Homo sapiens: one gene and its partners. The protein of the gene in region 3 interacts with the protein of the main gene of each other region in a pairwise test. Each region holds a gene or a part of one and is shown on either strand. Other genes may lie near its edges.

Region 1 (7,000 bases), on a different chromosome or scaffold from region 3:
AGAGTTCTGAGCAAGAACCTAAAGTAAACAAATTTAATTCTTGAGAAAACAGGAACTAATAACTGATAGTAAAAAAAAAAAAAAAAAAAAAAAAAAGAAAAAAGAAAAAGAAAATCTCGGCCTGGTGCAGTGGCTCACGCCTGTAATCCCAGGACTTTGGGAGGCCGTGGAAGGTGGATCACCTGAGGTCAGGAGTTCGAGACCAGCCTGGCCAACATGGTGAAACCCCATCTCTACTAAAAATAAAAAAAAACCTGGCCGGGTGTGGTGGCAGGTGCCTGTAATCCCAGCTACTCGAGAGGCTGAGGCTGCAGTGAGCTGAGATCGCACCATTACACTCCAGCCTGGGAAACAAGAACAAAACTGTCTCAAAAAAAAAAAAAAAAAAAAACTCATTGCATAAAGACAGAACATTTATGTTCCCTTCAGAGAATACCAGACACAAGTTACTGATCAACTCTCTCAACTACCCCAAACCCAGCAGCAATACACCAGTCATAAATTATATATCAAAACTGGTATATAATAGAAAACAATGATATCAGTTTAAAACAAAAGCAAAAAGCAAGTTTGTACTCAAGTATAACCCCTAATACTGCAAATATTAAACTACAGGTTATCTCTTGCCATCTGCAATGTCAGCTATTCAGGCTTCCCAGAGAAACCAAATATATCTGGATGATGAGGAATACCTGTTCTAGAGTCAGAAAGAAAACTGATCAAACTTGCTTATCCAAAATCCACTTTATGAATAAATCCTACATTATCAGAAAGGTTTGATCAGCTGAATCTTTTGGAAGATTGACTGTTAAAAGCATGCACACCTTGGGAATAATGAGCAATGCATCAGCAAATGCTTGGACTCCAAGCTGTGCCCTGCCCTTTACACTGGGCTTATGTTTAATCAGGGCTTCTGCCATTGCCACTTCCACGGCACCAGCACCTGGAACCACACAGCCTGTTGGATGGGGGAAAAGGAAAAATGCTAAGAAAACTGCAGAACTAATTATGAATAACAAAATATACATATGAAAGCCATTAATTTCTTACAAATTTACTATGACAAAATACAAGTGACTAACATACCAAATAGGAGAATGGTTCAACCAGAATGGCTTCACTAGCCACTGGCAGCTTTCAACAGATCAGTATTAGTTCATTTATTTGTATTCACCTTTAATAATGATATGCTATGAAAAACCTTAGCATACCATCAGTCATTCTAAAGGGAAGACTGCTTTTGCATGGTGTCTGGCTGTGTAAACTACTGATAAAAACACAGTATTCGGCCATGCCTTTCAGACCAGCAAAACAATATAAAAGAATTGAAATACAGTGAGGATCTTACCATCATCAATAGCATTTTTGACAGCCCTCAAGCCGTCCCTCACTGCATCTTTGATCTGAGTGAGTGTGTGCTTATTTGGTCCTTTGATCAATAATGTGACAGAACGAGGGTTGTTACATTTCTCAATAAAGGTAAACTTCTCTTCTCCCTATGTGTAGAAAAAATATGATTTTCAAAAACAGGATTTGTGCAGAGTGAAGAGAGAAGAGGGACTTACAGAGAATGACAAGTAGCATATTAATAAGGAACAAACTTGATCACATTAAAGCAAATTATCTCCTTTTGAAAAATCACATAAAAGAAATGTGATTTTCCCCATCAATGGCTTCCCATTACTACACATAAACCTTCAAAATGTATATAAACAAAAATCTGATCCTGAATTTCAATTAATTTTTCTGCTAAAGACTTCATGAACCAGGCACGGTGGCTCATGCCTGTAATCTCAGCACTTTGGGAGGCTGAGGGTGAAGGACAGCCTGAGCCCGGGAGTTTAAGACCAGCCTGGGCAACACAATTATGAACCTGTTTCTACAAAAATTACCAAGAAAAAAAAAAATTAGCCAGTCATGGTAGCACACACGTCTGTGGTCCCACCTGCTCAGAAGCCTGAGGCGGGAGGATCACTTGAACCCAGGAAGATGAGGCTGTAGTGAACTGTGATCACACCACTGCACTCCAGCCCGGGCAGGAGTGAGACCCCACCTCAAACAAACAAACAAAAATAATTCACGAGCTAAAAGGTTCTATTACCTTTAAGAAAAAAATACACTTACCAATGTATACTCATATACAAGTCCTGCATGTCCCAAGCAGTCAGGACTTAGGTCGTCAAAAGAATTCAGGGCTACCCCACCACAAGCAAGAGTCAGCCTGAAATAGCATTTTAAGGGAGATGGATAAGCAACGTTACCAGTGAATTTCAAAGATAAGACCAGTAATTTTTAGGAAGGAATTTTTCAGAATTACACACAAAATTAAATTTTAAAATGTACTTTAAGCCTTTCCATTTGCCATCAACCAGCTAAAAACTAGTCTTTTCTCTTAACCCTCCATTTAAACCACTCTCCCCAAGTTAGCAAATGAAATCTAAAAGGTGGACAAGAGCTCTTTATTAGCCAGGCATGGTGGCTCACACCTGTAATCCCAACACTTTGGGAGGTTGAGGTGGGTGGATCACTTGAGGCCAGGAGTTTGAGACCAGCCTAGCTAACATGGCAAAACCCCATCTCTACTAAAAAAACACAAAGCAATTCAGTGGGCATGGTGGCAGACACCCGTAATCCCAACTACTCGGGAGGCTGAGAATCCTATGAACCCAGGAAGTGGTAGTCGCAATGAACCAAGATCATGCCACTGCACGAAAGAGCAAGACTGTCTCAAAAAATAATAATAAAAAATTTTTAAAAAAAGCTTTTTATTGTGGGGAGCTCTTTGGAAAAAAGTATATTGAATTCAGAAACAAAAAGTAAAATAATGTTTACAAGGGGCAAGGGGGAGGGAGAAATGGGGAGTAACTATTTAATGGGTATACAGTTTCAGTTTGTGATGATGAAAAAAGTCCTAGAGATGGACAGTGCTGACGGGGTGCACAATGTGAATATAGTTAATGCCAATTAACTATACAGTTGAAAAACCCAAAAATAAAGTATAAGGAAAAAGAAATAATCCCAATTCACTTGCAAAATGAGTAAAAGTCAAATTACTCGGATACCTCTCCATATTTCTCCTTTTAGCTCTGCGCAGAGCAACTATGCCTTCTTTTGAAAGAGCATCTAAGGAAAAGGGGTCAATTCCCTGTAACAAAAATAAAAATTAATTTCAACATCTTTCACCTTAAAAGTAAAAAGGATGATACGTACTATTTAGTTTATACATTGAGTTTTCATTCTCACCTTTTGATTAATAACAACAAATCCTTTATCTGAATCGCCACAGACTTTCCTTTTCAGTTCTATTATTTTTTTAACCCTATCTTCAATGAATTTTCTTTCAGCTTTCACGAGTTTTTCTCTCTCTTCTGCACTCTTGTAAAAAAAGCCAGAATTCACTTCTCTATTAAGAAAAAAAAAAGTTACAGAAAGCAGGGAAACATTAAGAAAGCAGCTTCTGAAACTGGATTAGTCCTAAGATTTAACAGTTCACTGAGCTCCAATCCTGCCCCTTATGCATCTTCAGAGACTGTTTCCTATAGCTCCCCCAAACCAATTTGAGCATTATTGTCCTTACAGTGGGAAACAAAGTTTCACAAAAAAGTAACTCGCCTAAAATACGAAGCTTCTCCATTTCACTGTTAAGGGGCTATAAACTTACGTTTTCTCATACTCTAATGACACGTTACAAGTGAGGATGTATGCATCCTCCACCCTTTTCTTCATATCAGGATGCCGTGCTCCGTGGTCCAAAACAAGCCCTCTGATTAAGCTGTTTAAACACACACAAAATTATGGTTATTGATTTTCAGATGGGTATTTAATATATTAAACACTGAAATGAGAAGGTATTGATATTTCACGCAGTCACATTTTTCTTTTTTGAGATGAAGTCTCGCTCTGTTGCCCAGGATGGAGTGTAGTGGTGCCATCTTGGCTCACCGCAAGCTCCACCTCCTGGGTTCACACCATTCTCCTACCTCAGCCTCTCAAGCAGCTGGGACTACAGGCACCCACAACCATGCCCAGCTAATTCTTTTGTATTTTTAGTAGAGACGGGGTTTCACCGTGTTAGCCAGGATGGTTTCGATCTCCTGATCTCGTGATCCGCCCGCCTTGGCCTCCCAAAGTGCTGGGATTACAGGCATGAGCCACTGCGCCCGGCCTATTTCTTAAATTACCTGAAGATCCTACGCTGTACAGAAAAGTCTGCAGAGATGGTCTCACTGGTAGGCTGTCAAACTGTGATGACGTCCTTTAAAAACATGTTTTCTACCAAGCACCTGTAATCCCAGCACTTACGGAGGCAGAAGTGAGAGGACACCTTAATCCCAGGAATTTAAAACCAGCCTGGGCAACATAGGGAGACTCCATTCTCCACACAGACACACACACACACACACCCCAAAGGGAAAACAAACATGTTTTCTAACTAACTCTTTGAAAAAAATATTTTTTTAAATTCCTCTACTACTTCTCATTATGCTTTGTACCTAGCAATTCAATAAATGCCAAATGACTGATGTTGTTCACTTTTCAGAATCATTCTAACCATAAACATAACATTCACCTTATTTCAGGAGAAAATATTACTAAAAACAATATTCTCCTAGCAGTTTATCCAACTTATATCTTCAGGTAAATATATAACATTTTATATCCAAAGATATTTTTAAAATTGCCATCTCACGCCTGTAATCCCAGCACTTTGGGAGGCCGAGGTGGGCGGATCACGAGGTCAGGAGATCGAGATCATCCTGGTTAACATGGTGAAACCCCGTCTCTACTAAAAATACAAAAATTATCCGGGCATGGTGGCGGGCGCCTGTAGTCCCAGCTACTCGGGAGGCTGAGGCAGGAGAATGGTGTGAACCCGGGAGGCAGAGCTTGCAGTGAGCCGAGATCATGCCACTGTACACTCCAGGCTGGGCGACAGAGCAAGACTCCATCTCAAAAAAAAAAAAAGCCAACTATCTATATTGTACAAAGCACCCCTAAATTTCTAAACACAGTTTATTTTTTGTTTTTGTTTTTTTTTTAATGGGACGGGGTTTCGCTCTTGTCACCCAGGCTGGAGTGCAATGGTGTGGTCTCAGCTCACTGCAACCTCCGCCTCCCAGGTTCAAGCTATTCTGCTGCCTCAGCCTCCCGAGTAGCTGGGATTACAGTCATGCCCGGCACGCCTGGTTAATTTTTGTAATTTTAATAGAGACGGGGTTTCCCCATGTTGGCCAGGCTGGTCTGGAACTCCTGACCTGAGGTGATTTGCCCACCACAGCCTCCCAAAGTGCTGGGATTACAGGTGTGAGCCTCCATGCCCATTAGTATTTCACAGTCTTCTACCACCTACCTTGTATCAGTTTCAGATTTATGTTTCATCTCCATGATCTCAATCATGAAGAGATCAATAGGTTCATCTTGCTTTTTAATGGCCAAAATGGAGTCCACTACAGCCTGCAATTGGAGGAGCATAACCGTTAAGTAAATTCAATTTGCAGCAGAAACATGTTGCTTTTCAGAAGGCTAAAGTAGGCAGTTTCATTTTACAATTCTACACTGATTTAAGTCTTTTTCTATCAGCAAATAGAATACATTATATGTAAAAGGCAACAGCTGAAGTCATTTACATTTCTGAAATCTCCATCTATAATTCCCAAACATTAACATTAATTAACATTAACATTCCTCGTTTTATTAAAAATACTGGTAACTGGAAGCTTTCTAATAAAAAAATCTCCACTTTATAAACCTTTTAATGAAAGCTTCAATTTTACTTTTATAACCTGGTTAGGTATACTATTATTTTAATTTCCTCATTTTTAGAGACACAGATTAGGTATCATTGCCACAAAAATGAACCTACACAGCACCTTGTAATTGAAATTGGTAATCATATTCATGTTTCTACTATCAGAGATTTTCTATATAGGTATACTATACCAGACATAGACAAAATTTAATACATACCTCTGTTAAGACATCTGCAAGTTCAGCATGAACTTTAGTACGAAGAGATGTTCTGGCCACATCTATAAGTGTTTCCCTGTCCATCTCTCTGCTTACTTTGACTTCTTCCAAAAACTGAAGGGCCTTTTCCTTTGCAGCTTCAAATCCTTCAGTGATTATTCTAGGATGAAGGCCCTAAAATAAACACACATTAACACTTGCATCTTCAATTAGGTGCAACCATAGTTCATGATAAAGTTCAGGTAATTATTGAAGGAGTGTTCTGGATCATCATACCTTTGAACACGAGGTAATATAATGTGCTGGCTTTCTGAATACATTTAAAAGGACAAATATTCCTTTCAATGCAGAGCAGATGAACAGGTAATGAATGCTCTAGCACAGGGTCAAAGCCAAGGGAACTATAAAGCACACTTGGGTGTTCACTGTGCAAACCACTCTGAATCATTTCAAAACCAACACTGTGTCCCAACAACTCACAGATGGTAGCATTATCCTATCTTTATTTTCTTTCATTTTTTTTGAGATGGAGTTTCGCACTTGTTACCCAGGCTGGAGTACAATGGCACAATCTCGACTCACCACAACCTCCACCTCCTGGGTTCAAGCAATTCTCCTGCCTCAGCTTCCCAAGTAGCTGGGATTACAGGCATGCACCACCACGCCTGGCTAATTTTTGTATTTTTAGTAGACACGGGGTTTCTCCATGTTGGTCAGACTGGTCTCGAACTCCCAACCTCAGGTGATCCGCCCACCTCGGCCTCTCAAAGTGCTGGGATTATGGGCGTGAGCCACTGCGCCTGGACTATTCTATCCTTTCTATAGGTAATCTCAAACTAACTCACATCATTTACTAATAAAAATAAAGACTGTTCTCTTTCTCCAGGAAATTCTGACAATACATTCATATTCACTGAGGTTTGCTTTAACCTTGGAACTAGTCAGGGCTAAAAAAGTGGAATTTATCCAAATATAAGCTTTTGGTTGCCTTTTTCCTAACAAATATGCCTAGTCCTAAACATTCCATTTTTAG
Region 2 (7,868 bases), on a different chromosome or scaffold from region 3:
CACCCATCCGCCCACCAATCCTTTCATCCATCCATCCATCCATCCACCAATCCTTCCTTCCGTCCATCCATCCATCCGCCCACCAATCCTTTCATCCATCCGTCCATGCAGCCATCCACCCACCCATCCATCCACCAATTCTTCCATCCACCCACCCACCTATCCACTCAACCAATCCTTTCATCCACCCACCCACCTACCCATCCACTCATCCATCCATTCACTCACCCACAAAACCTTTCATCCATCCATCCACCCATCCATCCACCCACCAATCCTTCCTTCTATCGATCCATCCATCCATCCATCCATCCGTCCATCCACCCACCAATCCTTCCTTCCATCCATCCATCCACCCACCAATCCTTTCATCCATCCATCCACCCCTCCATCTACCCACCCACCCATCCATCCACCCACCCATCCATCCATCCATCCACCCATCCATCCATCCACCCACGGATCCTTCCATCCACCCACCCACCCGTCCACTCAACCAATCCTTTCATCCACCCACCCACCCACCCATCCACTCATCCATCCATCCACTCACCCACCAAACCTTTCATCCATCCATCCACTCACCTACCAAACCTTTCATCCATCCATCCATCCACCCACCAATCCTTTCATCCACCCATCCACCCACCCATCCATCCACCCACCCACCCATCCATCCATCCACCATCCATCCATCCACCCACCCATCCATCCACCCATGGATCCTTCCATCCACCCACCCACTCATCCATCCATCCATCCACTCACCCACCAATCCTTTCATCCATCCATCCATCCATCCATCCATCCACCCACCCACCCACCCATCCATCCACCCACCCATCCATCTACCAGTCCTTCCTTCCACCCATCTATTCACCCACCCATCTGTCCACTCACCCATCCTTCCATCCTTCTAATTCTCAATGAGACTCATTTCTCCACATGTACCTTCCTCATCCCCTTCCTTCTTTTATTCCTTCCATTTATCCCTAACTTTATCTCAAATCCAAAATCTATTCCTGAAACTATCCCTACCCCTAATCTCCAAACTCGAGAGACCCTAGAATATCATGGGTTCTGTCCTGACCTGGTCTCCTTTCTAGAAGAAACCCCATTATAGCCCATCTCCAACTCAGTCTATATACACATCCTCAACCGTCTCTGCTTCTCTCTGCAGCCCATTCATGCTTTTCTCCATACTCACGATGAATCTATAATCAACTCTAAACTCAACCCACCCAACTCCACCCATGCCCACACCCTAACCTCAGAGTCAACTAAAATCCCAACCCTGTCTCCCTCCCCACCCCCTTCATTGACTCCAGTCCATCCTCAATCCCACCCCCAGCTCCCTGCCTTTCCACGATTGTGTTTGGGTGATTGGATGGATTAGGGTTGAGGTCAGGCATGGAACCTCGTTGAGAATTAGAAAGGGGGAGGTCATGTGGGGGCTCAGGGTGGAGATGGATTGGGCGGGCCCTGATTTGGGGTCAGAGTTGGAGACAGAGACGGGGCTTGGGACAGAGTTGGACCTGGGATAAGCACTCCCAACCTTTGTCCCTCGTGGCCTCACCCTTTCCTGCAGCATCCCGCTGAGGTCCCCACAGGGCGCGTACTCCTGGGCGAAGGCAAAATAGCGGGGGGTCTGTAGGGGTCCTGCCAGGGTCTGCAGCAGGCCTGGGTGTGCAGAGACGCAGCGGCCCACACAGAACTCCCTCAGGAAGGTGCTTCTCAGGACCAAATCCCGACGCAGGAGCTTCAGAGCCACAGCTGGACCTGCCAGGGAGATGGGTCGGAGGGACACTCAGGCGGCTCCAGTCCTGCTGTGGGGCCTGAGGGAAGCCGTGTAAACTCTCTGAGCCTCACACTTCTCATGGGCAGCACGGGCTCCCCTGTCTGTGAAGTGTGGGTGGGAGGAGACCTTCTTTGAAGACCCTCCCTGCTCTGCCTCGGACTGCGGCGTGGGCTTGCACAGCCGCCTCACCCTCTCCGGGCCTCAGTTTCCCCTGGCATCAAGTAAGAGACACGGTGGTGACTTGGGTTCCAACTTGAGTTGCATACCTGTCCTGCTGTGGGACCGTAGGCAGTCCCTCGCCCTCTCTGGGGTGGGGCCTGTGTTTCTCAGAAGATCCCAGAGCTCTTAACTTTCAGAGTACCCCCACTGAGAAGGGTCCCCATCAGCTCCTCCTGGGAATGCCCCCTGTCTGGGTGGCTTCCGAGAATGCTTATTGTGGGGCAGTTGGGGAGGCTGCCCTTGGGTGGCTGAACTCACCCCCCTGGTGAGGCTGGGCAAGGAGCACGCGGCCGTAGGAGCCGGAGCCCAGCTTCCGGATGAGGTGGTACTGGTCCCGAAGGCTCCTCACCGGGGTCACCCTGCTGGTCGTCAGCTCCACCAGCCGTTGGAGGGCTGTGGCTGTGTCCTCCTACGGGAGAGGGGCAGGGTGAGGAGGGGGCGCGTCTGGGGTCCACTGAGAGTGGTGGGGGAGGAGGTCACGGCGCAGCCCCAGGATGGAGGGTGGGGCAGGGGACAGGGGTCACTGTCCCCAGAGAGGAGGATGAGTCACAGTGACTCACCCGGACTCGGGCCACCTGTTTTTGTGTCCTGGAGAGGTTAGGGGTCACTGCCACAGAGGCCCCGCCTGCCCCTGTCTGTGGGAGCAGGCCAGGAGCCCCCAGCCCCGAGTGGGGGTGCATCCTCAGCCCACACAGTCCCCCTGCCCACCCTGGTCTCTCTCTCCACCGTCCTCTTCCCCTGTGCATCCCGCTGTGTGTTTCTGAGTCCAATTCTCTGGGGGCCTTGGTCTCGCTGTGTGTCCTTGGATCTCTGTCATCCTCTCTCCCTGGGTCTGGGTCTCTGAGGTCTTTGCGTTTCCCTGTTTTCTGTTTCTCTTCCTCTCTCTCCCCGTGTTGCCTCCTGCCTCTCTCTCCTTCTTTTCTCTCTCTGTCTTCCTCCCCTGGCTCCCGTCTCTCACCTCTGGGTCCCCATCCTCAGGGGTCTCGGAGGCCCTGCGCTCCATCTCAGGGCTTCCTGATGTGGGGTGGCCCTTGGGCGGGACCCCCCCGTCAGGGCTCCCCAGAAAGCAACCAGCCCCCTGCACCCCACAGGTTCTCGCTGCGCAGAGCCAAGGGATGGAAGCTCGTCTGCAAGGTCAGCCTCAGTCGCCCCTTGTCTGTCCGGCTCTGTCTAGCTGGAGGAGTGTCTCTGCCTCTCTGTGCCCTCCTGCCACCCTCTGGGTGTATTCCCTGCTGTGCTTCCCAGGTGATAGCCCTTACTCCCCACACCCTCTCTTCCCCTCTCTTTAGCCAACCCCAGTCTCTCCTTCCTTCTACAGGAACACCTTTCTGTCAGCCTCTCTCTTGCTCCGTCTATCCTCTCTCTTTGTGCGTCTTTGTCTCCTTCTCTCCCCGTCTCTCTCTCTCCACCCTCCCTGTCTCTGTCTCGCACTTGGGTCTCTGGGGTGGGACTCCCCCTCCCTGTCCCGTCTCTGTGGGTCGCCGGCCCCTCTCCCCTGTCCGCACACTGTCTCCACTCTTTCTCCACCAACTCTGGGGGTGTCTCCACGCTCTGCTCCCTGCCTGCTCCCCTCTCTCTGTCTGTCTGTTTCCCGTCTCTCCCGGCCCCTCTGGGCATCTCCGTCCGCTCTCCCCAGTGTCTCTGCGTCTCTCTCCTCCTCTTTGTTCCTGACTCTCTCTCAAAGCCTTTGTCCCTCCCTTTCTCTGGGCCTGGGACAGGGGTGTGTGTGACAGCTCAGAGACAGAGACATCCTGTCCCCCCACACCCCTCCCTCACCCCCTCTGACCGCTGCCCCCTCCCTCTCCCTTCCAAACTTAGACCAGCTTGGACTCTGGGCTCCAGTCCCAGGACAGACGGGACAAAACATATTGTGAACCCCCAACAAGGCCCAGGCCTGAGGGCAGAGGAAAGGGTGGGACAGACCCCTCCACACACCTGAGCTGGGATGACTGGCCCAGAGCTGAGCACCTCTGTCTTGCCCCAGAGGCCAGGAGCGCTGGTGTCCAGGGACCAGGGAACAGTTCCCAAAGCCCTCCTCCTTCACACCAGGAGTGCTGGCCCCAGCTCCTCCTCCCTCACACCCAGGAGTCCAGGTCCCCAGTTCCTCCATCCTCAGACCCAGGAGTCTAGGCCCCAAGCCCCACCTCCCTCAGACCCAAGAGTCCAGGCCTCCAGCTCCTCCTCCCTCAGATCCAGGAGTCTAGGCCCCCAGCCCCTCCTCCCTCAGACCCAGGAGTCCAGGACCCCAGCCCTTCCTCCCTCAGACCCAGGAGTCCAGGCCTCCAGCCCCTCCTCCCTCACACCCAGGAGTCCAGGTCCCCAGTTCCTCCATCCTCAGACCCAGGAGTCCAGGCCCCAGCCCCTCCTCCCTCAGACCCAGGAGTCCAGGTCTCCAGCACCTCCTCCCTCACACCCAGGAGTCCAGGTCCCCAGTTTCTCCACCCTCAGACCCAGGAGTCCAGACTCCAGCTCCTCCTCCCTCAGACCCAGGAGTCCAGGCCCCAGCCCCTCCTCCCTCAGACCCAGGAGTCCAGGCTCCCAGCCCCTTCTCCCTCAGACCCAGGAGTACAGACTCCCAGCCTCTCCTTCCTCAGACCCAGGTCCCCAGCCCCTCCTCCCTCAGACCCAGGAGTCCAGGCCCAGCCCCTCCTCCTGCAGGACTCAGGAGCTGAAGTAGCTGTGGGAAGCGCCAGGGACAGAGGTGCTCTCATGTTCTCAGCACCTGTTCCGCGCCTAGCCCTGTGCGGGGCTTTACACTGGATCCTCCCAGCTGCCCAAAGGGTCAGTATTTATCCCCAGTTTACGGAGCAGGAAACTGAGGTTCCGAGAAACGATCGTGTTACACAAGGTCAGAAGGGGAGCGGGCCCCGGGCCAGGCCTGTGTGACTCAGAGGCCTGCTGCCTGCCCCACTCGTGTTTCCACTACTACTACAGCCCTGCTATTAATAAAGACACAGCAACGGCAGCGACGCGTAGGCGCTGGAAGGATCTGCAGGAAACAGGCTGTGGCGCTGGCCTCTGGGGAGCTGGAAGGGACCCAAGGAGGGGCAGAGGTAGAACTTCCTTTGCTGTTCGGAGGTTAGATTGGGGAAAGTCGCAAACCTACAGAAAAGTAGAAAAAGTGCTGTCCGTGCCTGTAGTCCCAGCTACTGGGCAGGCTGAGGCAGGAGAATCGCTTGAACCCAGGGAGGCGGAGGTTGTGGTGAGCCGAGATCGCACCACTGCACTCCAGCCTGGGCAACAGAGCGGGACTCCGTCTCAAAAACAAACAACAAACAAACAAACAAATAATAACAACAAAACAAAAACAAACAAACAAAAAAGTGCTGTCATGAACACCCATTGGCTAAACTTCACAGATGTGGCCACTTGGCCATACTTTCTTGATCTTTATTTCTTTGTCGGCGGGGGCATACAAACTAGTTTCAAGTAAATGATAAATATTGAAGTCTTTTGGAAGTGGAAATGCTGAGCTGCCTGGTGTGTTTGCTTTAAAATCATCTGGCCGGCTGGGCGCGGTGACTCACGCCTCTAATCCCAGCACTTTGGGAGGCCGAGGCGGGCGGATCACCTGAGGTCGGGAGTTCGAGACTAGCCTGAACAACATGGAGAAACCCCGTCTCTACTAAAAATACAAAATTAGCTGGGCATGGTGGTGTATGCTTGTAATCCCAGCTACTTGGGAGGTTGAGGCAGGAGAATCACTTGAACCCGGGAGGCGGAGGTTGCGGTGAGCCAAGATGGCACGATTGCACTCCAGCCTGGGTAACAAGAGCAAAACTCTATCTCAAAAACAAACAAACAAAAAAGTCTGGCAAAAGAAAAGAAAATGTGTGTGTGTGTGTGTGTGTGTGTGTGTGTATGGGGGGGTGGTGGGTGGGTGGTGAGACAAGTGAGAGGGAAGGGACTCATTTTATTCCTCTGTTTCTGGTTATGCTGGAAATTTTCCTTCATGAAAAGCTACAAGTTATAAACTAAACTACAGGCATTGTGATGAATTGTGCCCAAACATTTGAGAGTACCTATCTGTAAAAGTAAGGAAAATTTCTAGCTCAGCTACAGTAAAATTGTCATAATGACTTTTTTAACAAAATTGAAGATGAGGCCAGGTGTGATGGCTCACGCTTGTAATCCCAGCACTTTGGGAGGCTGAGGCGGGCAAATTGCCTGAGGTCGGGAGTTCGAGACCAGCCTGGCCAACATGGTGAAACCCCATCTCTACTACAGATACAAAAATTACCCAGTCGTGGTGGCGTGTGTCTGTAATCCCAGCTACTCAAGAGGCTGAGGCAGAAGAATCGCTTGAACCCGGGAGGCAGAGGTTGCAGGGAGCCGAGATGGCGCCACTGCACCCCAGCCTGGGCGACAGAGCGAGAGTCTGTCTCAAAAAAATAAAATTAAATTAAATAAAAAATAAAAAATTTAAGATAGGGTCTTGCTGTGTTGCCCAGGCTGGTCTCAAACTCCTAGGCTCAAGTGATCTTCCTACCTCGGTCTACCAAAGTGCTGAGAATACAGGTGTGAGCCACAGTATCCAGCCCAACAATTTCTCGAAATCAGATAATAACAAGTCTGTCTTCAGTTTCTCACATTTATTTTTTTTTAAATGCCTTGGCTGGGCGCGGTGGCTCATGCCTATAATCCCAGCACTTTGGGAGGCCGAGGCAGGTGGATCACCTGAGGTCAAGAATTCGAGACCGGCCTGACCAACAAGGTGAAACCCCCCTCTCTACTAAAAATACAAAAATTAGCTGGGTATGGTGGCAGGTGCCTGTAATCCCAGCTACTCGGGAGGCTGAGGCAGGAGAATTGCTTGAACCTGGGAGGTAGAGGTTGCAGTGAGCCAAGATGGACCACTGAACTCCAGCCTGGCGGCAGAGTAAGACTCTGTCTCAAAAAAAAAAAAAAAAAAAAAAAAAAAGAAAAAAAAATGCCTTATTTGCTTTATGAGTCAGGAATCAACGTCAACATCCCGTATGACTTTCAGGGAACTTTTTACCACTGTGCCTTTTACATTATTTGAATTTTTCCTGTGAGTATGTGTTATTCAAAAAATTTTAATGAAATAATACAGTGATGATGATACAGTAATATAGTAACACTCGGTGCTTACTTGGTGCCAGGCCCTGGTCACGCTCTCTCGGTCTCTCTCTCTTTTTCACTTAAGACTTTGTGGAGTCCTCCCAACAAGCCCTGGGTCGGTAGAATGATGGTTTCCAATTTCCTGATGGGGACAGTGAGGCATGAAGCAGCAGAGTCATGGGCCACAGAGCCGCAGCCAGGGAGAGGCAGAGCTGGGATGCCTTGAGATCTGGTGACTCCAGGCTCCTCTGTGCCCCCTGCCCACGCAGCTCCCGTGAGGCCGACCTCAGGTGCCCGGCCCGGCTCGAGCTGAGCTCCTCCACTGGAGACCCGGGGCTGGCTGTGCGCCGACAGGCAAGCGCATCTGCTACCCTAGAGCCGGCCACCTGGGTCCCCCGGGAGGAGAGTGAGAGGGGACGCTGCGGGCCTCCAGCCCTCCCCCAGACGCTCGCTGGTGATCCGAAGAGCTTTGCACCTCCCCATTTAGTAACGCCGCTCTGCGGGGTCACCCGGAGTGACCTCGGCACGCAGGTGTGGTGGGGGAGGTTGCAGTCCTGCAGCCCCAGGGTACACACACACCCCTCATTAAAGCTGGGCGGTGTGCCTCTCTCCTCCCCTCCGTCCTGCCCACCAGCCTCCGAGGCCTCCTTTTGTGACCGTTTCCTGGCTTTGTCCCCTCCTGGCCGAACGAGGGCACACAAGTTAAGTGTGTTAACAACAACAGCAATAATAATAGTGTCCAACACTCATACTGTACTCGGTGCTGTGG
Region 3 (7,862 bases):
ACATGGGATTTTGCTAAGTTTCCCAGGCTGGTCTTGAATGCCTGCACTCAAGTGATCCTCCTGCTTTGGCGTGAGCCACCGTGCCTGGTCTAATTCTTTTTTTTGTTTTGTTTTTCTGTAGAAATGAGTTCTCACTATGTTGCCTAGGCATGCTCTACTTTCTGGGGAGAGGAGTTATCTCCATAAGTTATTTGCAATTTTGCGTGGAAGATTTGCCTCTTCTCCCCACTTTATTTATTCAATCACTTATTTATATCAGTAGGGACTGGTGGATATTTATTTATTTATTTTGAGATGGAGTTTCGCTCTTGTTATCCAGGCTGGAGTGCAATGGCGGGATCTCGGCTCACTGCAACCTCCGCCTTCCGGGTTCAAGTGATTCTCCTGCCTCAGCCTTCTGAGTAGCTGGGATTACAGGTGCCCGCCACCACGCCCTGCTAATTTTGTATTTTTAGTAGAGACGGGGTTTCTCCATGTTGGTCAGGCTGGTCTTGAACTCCCGACCTCAGATGATCCGCCTGCCTTGGTTTCCCAATGTGCTGGGATTACAGGCATGAGCCACTGTGCCTGGCATTTTTTTTTGTTTTGTTTTTCCTGAGACGGAGTTTCGCTTTTGTCGCTCAGGCTGGAGTGCAGTGGCACGATCTCTGCTCACTGCAACTCCCTGCTCCCCGGTTCAGGCGATTCTCCTGCCTCAGCCTCCTGAGTAGCTGAGATTACAGGCACCCTCCACCACGCCCGGCTAATTTTTTGTATTTTTAGTAGAGACAGGGTTTCATCATGTTGGCCAGTCTGGCCTCGAACTCCTGACCTCACATGATCCACCCTCCTTGGCCTCCCAAAGTGCAGGGATTACAGGTGGGAGCCACCGCACCTGGCCTGATATTTATTTTATTATTATTATTTTTTGAGACACAGTCTCACTCTGTTGCCCAGACTGGAGTGCAGTGGCGCAATCTCTGCTTACTGCAACCTCTGCCTCCCAGGTTCAAGCGATTCTCCTGCCTCAGCCCTGTGAGTAGCTGGAATTAACAGGCGACTGCCACCATGCCCGGCTAAGTTTTGTATTTTTAGTAGAGACGGGGTTTCACCATGTTAGCCAGGCTGGTCTCAAACTCCTTGAGATCAGGGTGGTCCGTCTGCCTCGGCCTCCCAAAGTGCTGGGATTACAGACGTGAACCACCGTGCCTGGCGGATATTTATTTTATGTTTTGGGTTATAATCCAGTACCACTTAATTTACAGTATTTTGTTGCTCATACTGTTTCCACTCTGGCCATTAGGAGTCCTTTCAGTTGGTTCAGCACTCCCTGTGACATCATCATCATTGGTGGGGTGTTTCATTTTTAGCACTACCTTACTTTCTGGTACTACAAGTTGCTTCAAGATCATCTTGTGTATTTCTATTTATTTATTTATTTACTGAGACAGAGTCTCGCTCTGTTGCCCAGGCTGGAGTGCAGTGGCGCGATCTCAGCTCCCTGCAACCTCTGCCTCACAGGTTCAAGCGATTCTCCTGCCTCAGCCTCCCGATTAGCTGGGATTACAGGTGCCTGCCACCACGCCTGGCTAATTTTTGTATTTTTAGTAGAGACGGGGTTTTGCCATGTTGGCCAGGCTGGTCTCAAACTCCTGACCTCAGGTGATCCGCGCCCACCTCGGCCTCCCAAAGTGTGGGATTACAGGTGTGAGCCACCGCACCTGGCCTATTTATTTATGTTTTGAAACAGAGTCTTGCTCTGTCGTCCAGGCTGGAGTGCAGTGGGGCAATCTCTGCTCATCACAACCTCAGCCTCCTGGGTTCTAGTGATCCTTGCACCTCAGGGTCCCAAGTAGCTGGGACCACAGGCGTGTGCCATCACACCTGGCTAATTTTTGTATTTTTATTAGATACCCGGTTTTGCCATATTGCCTAGGCTTGTCTTGGACTCCTGACCTCAAGCGATCTGCCTGCCTCGGCCTCCCAAAGTGCTGGGATTACAGGCGTGAGCCACCATGACTGGGCGAATTTTTTATTTTTTATTTTTTTGAGACAGGGTCTCGTTCCAGCTGGAGTGTGATAGCACCATCTCAGTTTACTGCAGCCTCAAGCTCCTGGGCTCAAGCGATCCTCCCACCTCAGCCTCCTGAGATGCTGGGAGTACAGGCGTGCACCATCAGGCCTGGCTAATTTTATACTTTTTGTAGAGACGGGGTTTCACCATGTTGCCCAGACTGGTCTTGAACTCCTGAGTTCAAGTGATCCACCCGCCTCAGCCTCCCAAAGTGCTGGAATTACAGGTGTGAGCCACTGCACCCAGGCTTCTTGTGTATTTTTTTGTCCCAGTTCTAGAGTCAGCTATTTCTCCAAGGAGCACTGGTTACTTTCATTGGAGAATGATATCAGAAACCAAGATCCGGGTGCTAGGTTATGCTTATTGCTACCAGGGTACACAGACATTTTAATGTATGTGTAACATAAAATTTACCTTTTCCACTGTACTTTCATTTATTTATTTATTTATTTTTGAGACGGAGTTTGCTCTGTCGCCCAGGCTGGAGTGCAGTGGCGTGATCTTGGCTCACTGCAACCTCCGCCTCCTGGGTTCAAGTGATTCTCCTGCCTCAGCTTCCTGAGTAGCTGGGATTACAGGCACGCGCTATGACACCTGGCTAATTTTTGTATTTTTAGTAGAGATGGGGTTTCACCATGTTGGCGTGGCTGGTCTTGAACTTCTGGCCTCAAGTAATCTGCCTTCCTTGGTCTCCCAAAGTGCTGAGATTATAGGCGTAAGCCAACGTGCCTGGTTCTTTTTTTTTTTTTTTTTTTTTTTTTTGAGATGCAGTCTCGCTGTGTCGCCTAGGCTGGAGTACCATGGCGCAATCTCGGCTCACTGCAACCTCTGACTCCCAGGTTCAAGCTATTCTCCTGCCTCAGCCTCCCAAGTAGCTGGGATTACAGGTGCCCGCCAGCACACCCAGCTAATTTTTGTATTTTTAGTAGAGATGCGGTTTCACTATGTTGGCCAGGCTGGTCTTGATCTCCTCACCTCGTGATCCTCCCAACTTGGCCTCCCAGTGTGCTGGGATTACAGGCCTTAGCCTCCTCGCCCGGCCAGTCTGTTTTAACTATTAAATAACATTAGGTAGATTCACATTGTTGTGAAACCATCTGTACTATCTATTTCCAGAACTTCTTCATCATCTCAAATTGAACCTCTGTATCTGTTAAACAATACCTCGCCATCTTCCTAACACCCACAGCAGCCCCTGATAACCACTGCTGTACTTTCCAACCATGAATTTGACTATCCTAGGTCCCTCATATAAGTGGAACCATACAGTATTTGTCCTTATGCTTCTTTCACTTAGCATGGTTCATCCATGAACTACGTTCATTCATGATGTTGTAGCAATTAGAATTTCATTTCTTTTTAAGGAGAAATAGTATTCCATTGCATGTACTGTACATACCACGTGTGTGTGTGTGTGTGTGTGTGTGTGTGTGTGTGTGTGTGTGTGTGTGTGTTTAAAAGCATAGGGGTCAGCCAGGTGTGGTGGCTCACGCCTGTAATCCCAGCACTTTGGGAGGCCAAGGCAGGCAGATCACTTGAGATCGGGAGTTCAAGACCAGCCTGACCAACATGGAGAAACCCCATCTCTACTAAAAATACAAAATTAGCCGGGCATGGTGGCACATGCCTGTAATCCCAGCTACTCGGAAGGCTGTCAGGAGAATTGCTTGAACCTGGGAGGCGGAGGTTGCGGTCAGCCGAGATCGTGCCATTGCACTCCAATATGGGCAACAAGAGTGAAACTCTGTCTCAAACAAAACAAAACAAAAACAAACAAACAAACAACAACATAGGGGTCTTGCTCTGTTGCCCAGGCTGACAGGCTGAACTTGAACTCCTGGCCTCAAGCCTCACGACTCAGCCTCCCTAGTAGCTGAAACTGCAGATGGCCTCCACTGACAGTGGCTACCATATATTTTCAAACATAAAATTTTAAGCTATAGATTTTTCTTTTTTTTGAGACGGACTTTCACTCTTGTTGTTCAGGCTGGAGTGCAATGGCACCATCTCAGTTCATCGAAACCTCTGCCTCCCGGGTTCAAGTGATTCTCCTGCCTCAGCCTCCTGAGTGGCTGGGATTACAGGCACATGACACCATGTCCAGCTAATTTTGTATTTTTAGTAGAGAAGGGGTTTCTCCATGTTGCTCAGGCTGGTCTCGAACTCCGAACCTCAGGTGATCCGCCCGCCTCGGCCTCCCGAAGTGCTGGGATTACAGGCGTGAGGCATGCCACCTGGCCTTTTTTTTTTTTTTTTTTTTTATAAAGAAATTGGGGCCGGGCGCGATGGCTCACGCCTGTAATCCCAGCACTTTGGGAGGCCGAGGCGGGCGGATCACTTGAGGTCAGAAGTTCGAGACCAGCCTGGCCAACATGGCAAAACCCTGTCTCTACTAAAAATACAAAAAATAGCCGGGCGTGGTGGCGGGCGCCAGTAATCCCAGCTACGCGGGAGGCTGAGGCAGGAAAATCACTTGAACCCGGGAGGCGGAGGTTGCAGTGAGCCGAGTTCGCACCACTGCACTCCAGCCTGGGCGACAGAGGGAGTCTCCGTCTCAAGAAAAAATAATAAATAAGAATAAATAAATAATAAAGTAAAATGTCCCAGGTAACTGCATATTCGATAGTCTTTCTTTCAACTTAGTTGTTGAATTAGCAATTTTTCTCTTAAAAAAATTTTTTTTTAGCTTATTGTCTTCGGAGATGATAACACCCTCGTTGCGTGGGAGTAAAATTTTAAAGGTAAAACAAACAGGAAACGAGCGTCGGCGGCGAATCTGCTGCTACCAATGTAAAGGTCAGGCCGAGGCCGGCGCGGAGAATCTGCTGTCGCCTGCAGCTGCTCGCCTGTCTCCGTCGGAAGGGAGCCCAAGCTTTGCAGAGGTGAGTGGAAGCGGCTTGGAAGGAGCGGGCCCCACGCCGGAGAGAAGGAAGAGGGAGTGCGGCCCAGACGCTGTGCCCGCGCTTGTGTGGGGCGCCATGTTGAAACCTGGCAAAGGGGACGACATTCTGGGTTGCGTTGCGGGGAGTGGGGACGAGAGCTGGATTGGAAGGATGGCGCCTTACTCCCTGCGGCCCCCAGAGAAGGAGAGGGGCGGGGGAGCGGCCTCGAGGGTTGGCGGCCAGGCTGCAGGCTGGATGGGAAGGATAGGCTTTTCCACAGAAACTTAGGTGTTTGCCTCCGAGGCCCACTGCGCATGCCCTGGAGGGCTCTGTGGGTTCCGCCTTCAGTTTTGCTTTTCACAGGAGGGGCAAAGTCTTTTTTTTTTTTTTTTCCTTTTTGAGACAGTCTTGCTCTGTCGCCCGGGCTGGAGTGCAGTGGTGCGATCTCGGTTCACTGCAACCTCCGCCTCCTGGGTTCAAGCGATTCCACTGCCTCAGCTTCCCGAGTAGCTGAGACTACAGGCGCCCGCCACCACGCCCTGCTAATTTTTTGTATTTTACTGGAGACGGGGTTTCACCATGTTAGCCAGGATGGTCTCGATCTCCTGTCCTCGTGATCCACCCGCCTCGGCCTCCCAAAGTGCTGGGATTACAGCCGTCAGCCACCGTGCCCGGCCAGGAGGGGCAGAGTCTTACCCCGAAGACCCAGGAAGGAGAGGCTTCATTTATTTTTTTGTTTTTCCCCAGAGACAGGGAGTCGCCCAGGCTGGAGAGCGGTGGCGCGATCTCGGCTCACTGCAGCGTCGACATTTCGGGTCAAGCAGTCCTCCCGCCTCAGCCTCTCAAGTATCTGGGACCACAGGCGCGACCCCACGCCCGGAGAATTGATTATTGATTGATTGATTGAAACGGGGTCTCACTTTGTTGCCCAGGCTGGTCTCGAATTTCTGGGCTCAAGCGATCCTCCAGCCTCGGCCTCTCAAAGTGCTGGTATTACAGGCGTGAGCCAGCGCGTGCCTGGCCAAAAATTTTCTAAATTTGTATAATAATTTATAATTGTAATGCATTTTTATAGACACCATATGATCTAATCTTCACAAAAACCTAGTGAAGTGACATTTAGCTACATTTCACAATAAGAATCCTGAAGCTCAAAATTTACTGACCTCAAATAATCCACCCGCCTTGGCCTCCCAAAGTGCTGGGATTACAGGCATGAGCCACCGCGCCCTGGCCCCCACCATTCATTTCGGCTCTCATCCCCTGTTGATGAGTAAAATGAGAATGAGGCCCAGGCGCGGTGGTTCACGCCTGTAATCCCAGCACTTTGGGAGGCTGAGGCAGGCGGGTCATCTGACATCAGGAGTTTGAGACCAGCTTGGCCAACATGGTGAAATCCTGTCTGTACTAAAAATGCAAAAATTAGCTGGGCGTGGTGGTGTGTGTCTGTAATCCCAGCTACTCGGGAGGCTGAGGCAGGAGAATCACTTGAACCTGGGAGGCAGAGGTTGCAGTGAGCCGAGATTGGCCATTGCACTCCAGCCTGGGTGACAGAGTGAGACTTTGTCTCGAGTAAAAAAAGAGAATGTAAAAATCGAAAGAGATTGTTGTAGGAAATCTCAACCTAATGCTGCCGGGGAGGAAGTGCACCTAGAAAGATTAATGAGAAACAATGAAACCAGCTGTTAGTATCTATAGAAGCATGCAGATGAGAGAGAGAACAAAATCCATGCTTATCCGTTTGTAATTCTCCTCCATTTTAATTTGAAGAAGTCTTAAAGTTTTGAACAGGAGCTCTGTGTACAATAATATCAGTTTTATTTGGTAGATCCTTGTGACTCCTGACTTCAAATGATCCGCTCATCTTGGCCTCCTCAAGTGCTAGGATTGCTGGCGTGAGCCACTGCACCGGGCCCCTTGTGACTTTTTAACGTTGAATGGGGAGGGGTTCTTTTCCTTCAGGAGAGGAGGGGTGGGTCTCAGCCTCAGACACCCAGAATACTGGTTTGTGTGTTTTCTTTTTCCTATCTTTATCTCCAAAACCTTATATTTTATGAAAAGCATCAGAGGAAACGATTAAGAGCTTTAGCTCTGGAGTCCACACTGCCCCTGGTTCTAACTCCTCCACTGGGCTACTTCTTAGCTTTAGGATTTGGGGCACAGGCTGCCTTTTTGTGTCTGACCTTTTTCATCTGAAAAGGCAATAATAATATAGTACCTAAGTCCTGGTATTGTTGAGAAGTGAGAGGAGTTAAGAGGTTAGTACAGGCTGGGTTCGCTGGCTCACATGTGTAATCCCAGCACTTTGGGAGGCTGAGGCAGAAGGATAGCTCATGCCCAGGAGTTCAAGATCAGCCTATGCAATATAGTGAGACCCCATCTCTACAAAAAAAAAAAAAAAAAAAAAAGCTGGGTATGGTGGCGCATAGTGAGTAATTCCAGGTACTCAGGAGGCTAGGGTGGGAGAGGCTGCAGTGAGCCATGACTGTGCCACTGTACTCCAGTCTGGGCAACAGAGCAAGACCCTGTCTCAAAAAAAATTCAAGCGATTCTCCTGCCTCAGCCTTCTGTAGCTGGGATTACAGGCATGCACCACCATGCCTGGGTAATTTTGTATTTTCAATAGAGACGGGGTTACTCCATGTTGGTCAGGCTAGTCTCGAACTCCCGACTTCAGGCAATCTGCCCACTTTTGCCTCCCAAAGTGCTGGGATTCAGGCGTGAGCTACTGCGCCTGGCCTTTTTTTTTTTTTTTTTTTTTTTTTTAAAAACAGAGACAGGGTCTCACCATGTTTCCCATGTTGCCCAGGCTAGTCTCGAACTCCTGGGCTCAAGGGATCCTCCCATTTTGGCCTCTCAAAGTGCTGGGATTACAGGCGTGAGCCACCACGCCCAGCCTCTTCTTTCTTTTTTTTTTGAGACGGAGT
Region 4 (3,911 bases), on a different chromosome or scaffold from region 3:
TCTTGGAAGTGCTTTTTGGCGGGGTAGTGCAGTGTGTTCCGGGCGGACGGGCGTCAGTTTACGTGTGCGTTTCTCATCCTTGCAGGTACCTGGCCCCGGGCACTCAGGTGGCAGGGACATTTTGCTGTTATCCTTCGTGGGGGTGGACGTGGAAGGCCCAGCAGTGACCGCTGTCCCCGGTTGGCCCCCACCCTGCCAGCACCTGACATGCACACCCCAACCTGCATGAGGCCCAGGTGCCCACCTGGCTTCCAGGGGTCACCTTGGCCCGGTTCACTGGGATCCAAGGCTCTCACTCCTTCTGGGAGGGCCCCTCCCATGGTACTCTCAGGAGACGCCTGCTTTGTGGGTGGGCTTTCTGATCTGCCCCCTACCTGCTACCAGGCTCTGAGGAAGGCCACACTGTCCCCAACACCACTGGTGTGCAGATGGCTGTGGGTGGTGACACGGGCAGGCCAGGCTCTGGCACAGGCACTTGATACTGCATTTCCCAAGTAGGACAGATAAACAACGCTAAGGCCAAGCAGACGCCCCAGGGAGGAACCTGGTTTTAATGGGCCCTGTGCTCAGGGAGGCCTTCAGTCAGCAGGGTCGCCTCAGCAGCATTTGGGAGCCTGCCCTGCAGCTCCCTGCCTCCACCCTGCACGCTGTGCCCACACCCCCCCACAACACGTAGGTGAAAGCACAGGCACCATGCGGAGGCCCCGAGCACCCCTTAGTGGGGCGGGGTGGGGGGAGGAAGTCAGTCCATAATGTTGTAGTTACGGATCTTGGGGGGCCTCTGGCAGCCTTTAGCTTTTGCAGGATGAGACCGGGAGGCTCCTGTGGTCTTGGCCTTTGCCTGGGCTGCTGTCTTCATCCCTGGGGTGGCAATGCCTGCCTGCATCTTGACGGGCCTCCTGTCGGCTGCTGGAGGAGCTGGGAGCTCTGTCAGGTAAAGAGGAAAAAACAGCATGCATCAGGATGGCAGGGGGAGCAGGAGGCTGTGCTCACAGGCACTGCACAGGTGCAGCACTTCCGTGTTCCCGGCCAGCGGGGGCCCTGTGACCCTTGGCCTGGCTTTCCTCCAGGAGTCCGTGAAGGCCAAAGGATCCTGGAGTGACCAGAGAGCTGTGGCCTCGCCTTGCTCAGTGGGTCCTGCTTGGCAGGGACTGGGCCTGCCCCTCCACTGGGCACCTGGACATGTGGCTCTGAAAATGGTCCTGTTGTGACCATTTCGTAATGGGTCCCAGGAGGGGGCAGGGGTGCTGTGTGGTAATGGGTCCCAGGAGGGGGCAGGGGTGCTGGGGTAAATGGTTGACTCAAAGCTCCTCCCCCCAGGCTGCCCCGGGTGTCCCTACCATCTGAGACACATTGCCTGCCCCCGCCTCCCCGATGGGCCAGCAGTGCCAGGCTTTTGAGGCCAAAGGAAAGGCCGTGCTGGTGGGCACCACGTGGCCAGGCACAGGCCAAGGGCCCAGGAGTGCGCTACACACAGAGGCTGGGGCCTAAATGCCAGATAGCCCTTCCTAAACATCGGCTAAAACCATCTTCGCAGAGGGGTGTTGTAGGTGATCTTCTTTATCTGGCCAGTTTTTCTCTATTTTTCATTTTTTCAATTAAGAATGTGGGGGTTTTTTTTGGTAAAACAACAGCAAAATGTTACTAAAAATCCATGCAAGGGCTGGGCTTGGTGGCTCACGTCTGTAATCCCAGCACTTTGGGAGGCCGAGGTGGGTGGATCACCTCATGTCAGGAGTTCAAGACTAGCCTGGCCAACAATGGTGAAACGCCGTCTCTACTAAAAATACAAAAAATTAGCCGGGCACGGTGGCGGGCACCTGTAATCCCAGCTACTTAGGAGGCTGAGGCAGCGGAGTCGCTTGAACCCGGGAGGCAGAGGTTGCAGTGAGCCGAGATTGCGCCACTGCACTCCAGCCTGGGCGGACAAGGGCAAACTCTATCTCAAAAAAAAAAAAAACAAAAAAAACCCCACAGTAAGATGTGAGCTCAGCGTCCACTGCGTGGCCACACTGTGGCTGGGGTGAGGTCTAGAGGACTCCAGCACGTGGCTGAATGTGGCCCAGTGGGCAGTCTGGACAGGCTGACCCAGGCAGGTCAGCGGGCGGCCAACGCCTCCTGCTGGAGCCCAGCCTGTGTGGTCTGCGTGCAGCCTGGGTGACTGGGAAGCGTCTGTGCTTTGGGGACACCGGCAATGACGCACTCTCAGCTGGGCTGCGCAGTGCCCATGGGGGCAGCCACACACTCCCAGCCCTGGCCCTGGGCCCCTCTTCCCATCTCAGCTTCTTCCACTCCGATCCACTCTTGGGGTCTCAAGACACCCGGAACCAGTCTTCCTTTTCCTGCAGCCCCGTTGGGGTCACACAGTCCCTGGCCCCCTGCTGGGGTCCTGGGGGGCCCTGGACGCTGCCTGCTCCCTTTGTTTCCAACCCCCAGAGGAATTCCTCCTCTTCACACAAAGGCTACCACCCTTTATCTCTCAACAATAAGCCTGCCTGACCTCCTGGTCCCGGCCAACGCCCCCATCCCCACTCCCTCCCCCCACCCCCCACACTGGCTGGCAGAGGGTGGGGTATCCCGTGGAAAGGGCTTCCTGCGGGGAAGCTGGTCCTCTGACCAGGCCCTAGTGCTCCACTGTGACCCTGAGGCATCTCCTCAAACCCAGAGGCCTTGGTTGTCCCTCTGTAATGCTCAGGGATTCTGGGGGCTTTGCCCGGCTTGATCCTCCTCAGACAAAGCCTGTGGGGATTTTCAGAAAAAGTGAGCTGAGGGAGGGGGGTGAAGGGCCTGCCCCTTTGCCTGGGAGGCCTGAGCTGGCCCTGCTGGGAGGACCCTGGCTGTATCCCGGGGCGAAGCAGGGAGGTGTGAGTGGGTCACAGTCCCCGGGGCAGGGAGGGGCAGGGAGGGGCAGGGAGGGTGAGCTGGCCCCCTCCCCAGGGCAGGCCGGCCCCTAGCTCAGAATATCCACTTTACAGGCTCTGGTTTCTTCACTGGTCCTTTTCCTGCGGAGCCCTCCTCAGTGATGGTGGCAGGGAACTGGCCATGAGCCCAGGACCCCAGGGCAGCGGACAGCCCCAGCCCAGCCAGTCCTAGGTCAGAGGCACGGAGCTGGATGTGTCAAGGCGGCTGCCCCAGGCGTGACTCCCTGTGACCCCGGATTCTTCTACCTGATGCTAATCTGAGGTCAACCCAGTAACTGGTGTGTAAAAACGCTCTTGGCCTCCACCACTCTCTGCCCCGCCTTCTCGCCTGACCTGTTTTGCCGAGCCTGGCCGGGATTTCTCTTTCTGCGTTGGGCTGACTGGGCCGCAGGGAAACCATGTGGACACACAGTTTGCCGGGCACAGCGTGAGGAACGCGCCTCTTGGGTCCTGCACCCCTCCCCCACGGGCTGCTTGTGCTCTGGCCCCGAACTGAGCTTCTGGAAAGTTCCTGAAACATCCAAGGCCTTGCAGTGATTAACCAGGGGAGGGGGACTGGGGCCTGCTTGCCCCTCCCAGGCTTAACCCCTCCCAGGTCCTGGTGTGTGCTGAGGCAGGGCCACCCAGGCTGGGCTCCGTCCCCTCAGGCGGCTGCACCATACTTGGAGGGTTTTTTAAATTTTTATTTTTATTTTTGAGACGGAGTCTCACTCTGTCGCCCAGGCTGGAGTGCAGTGGCGTGATCTCAGCTCACTGCAAGCTCCGCCTCCCGGGTTCACGCCATTCTCCTGCCTCAGCCTCCCGAGTAGATGGGACTACAGGCGCCCGCCACCACGCCCCGCTAAGTTTTTTGTATTTTTAATAGAGACGGGGTTTCACCATGTTAACCAGGATGGTCTCGATCTCCTGACCTCGTGATCCACCCACCTCGGCCTCCCAAAGTGCTGGGATTACAGGTGTGGGCCACCAAGCCCGGCTTGGAGGTTTGAA

What was found.
Region 1: the proteins of SNRNP35 (region 3) and CCT6A interact in binary tests that used the Homo sapiens proteins (3 or more experiments, as listed by UniProt).
Region 2: the proteins of SNRNP35 (region 3) and SBK3 interact in binary tests that used the Homo sapiens proteins (3 or more experiments, as listed by UniProt).
Region 4: the proteins of SNRNP35 (region 3) and CCDC57 interact in binary tests that used the Homo sapiens proteins (3 or more experiments, as listed by UniProt).

Annotation. Positions count from the first base shown.
Region 1 is NC_000007.14:56,054,765-56,061,764, reverse strand, and holds part of CCT6A (T-complex protein 1 subunit zeta), read right to left. Parts: intron 6,401-7,000; exon of another isoform or gene 6,263-6,400; intron 6,142-6,262; coding exon 5,968-6,141; intron 5,455-5,967; coding exon 5,351-5,454; intron 3,773-5,350; coding exon 3,662-3,772; intron 3,404-3,661; coding exon 3,244-3,403; intron 3,146-3,243; coding exon 3,063-3,145; intron 2,222-3,062; coding exon 2,125-2,221; intron 1,497-2,124; coding exon 1,349-1,496; intron 1,296-1,348; exon of another isoform or gene 1,163-1,295; intron 959-1,162; coding exon 825-958; intron 19-824; coding exon 1-18. UniProt on the Homo sapiens protein: Component of the chaperonin-containing T-complex (TRiC), a molecular chaperone complex that assists the folding of actin, tubulin and other proteins upon ATP hydrolysis.
Region 2 is NC_000019.10:55,542,524-55,550,391, forward strand, and holds the start of SBK3 (uncharacterized serine/threonine-protein kinase SBK3), read right to left. Parts: upstream 3,021-7,868; coding exon 2,976-3,020; intron 2,714-2,975; exon of another isoform or gene 2,698-2,713; coding exon of another isoform or gene 2,578-2,697; intron 2,427-2,577; coding exon 2,276-2,426; intron 1,836-2,275; exon of another isoform or gene 1,780-1,835; coding exon 1,577-1,779; intron 1-1,576.
Region 3 is NC_000012.12:123,453,282-123,461,143, forward strand, and holds the start of SNRNP35 (U11/U12 small nuclear ribonucleoprotein 35 kDa protein), read left to right. Parts: upstream 1-4,857; 5' UTR 4,858-4,935; intron 4,936-6,422; exon of another isoform or gene 6,423-6,607; coding exon of another isoform or gene 6,608-6,619; intron 6,620-7,862.
Region 4 is NC_000017.11:82,100,940-82,104,850, forward strand, and holds the end of CCDC57 (coiled-coil domain-containing protein 57), read right to left. Parts: intron 928-3,911; coding exon 743-927; 3' UTR 531-742; downstream 1-530. UniProt on the Homo sapiens protein: Pleiotropic regulator of centriole duplication, mitosis, and ciliogenesis. Critical interface between centrosome and microtubule-mediated cellular processes. Centriole duplication protein required for recruitment of CEP63, CEP152, and PLK4 to the centrosome.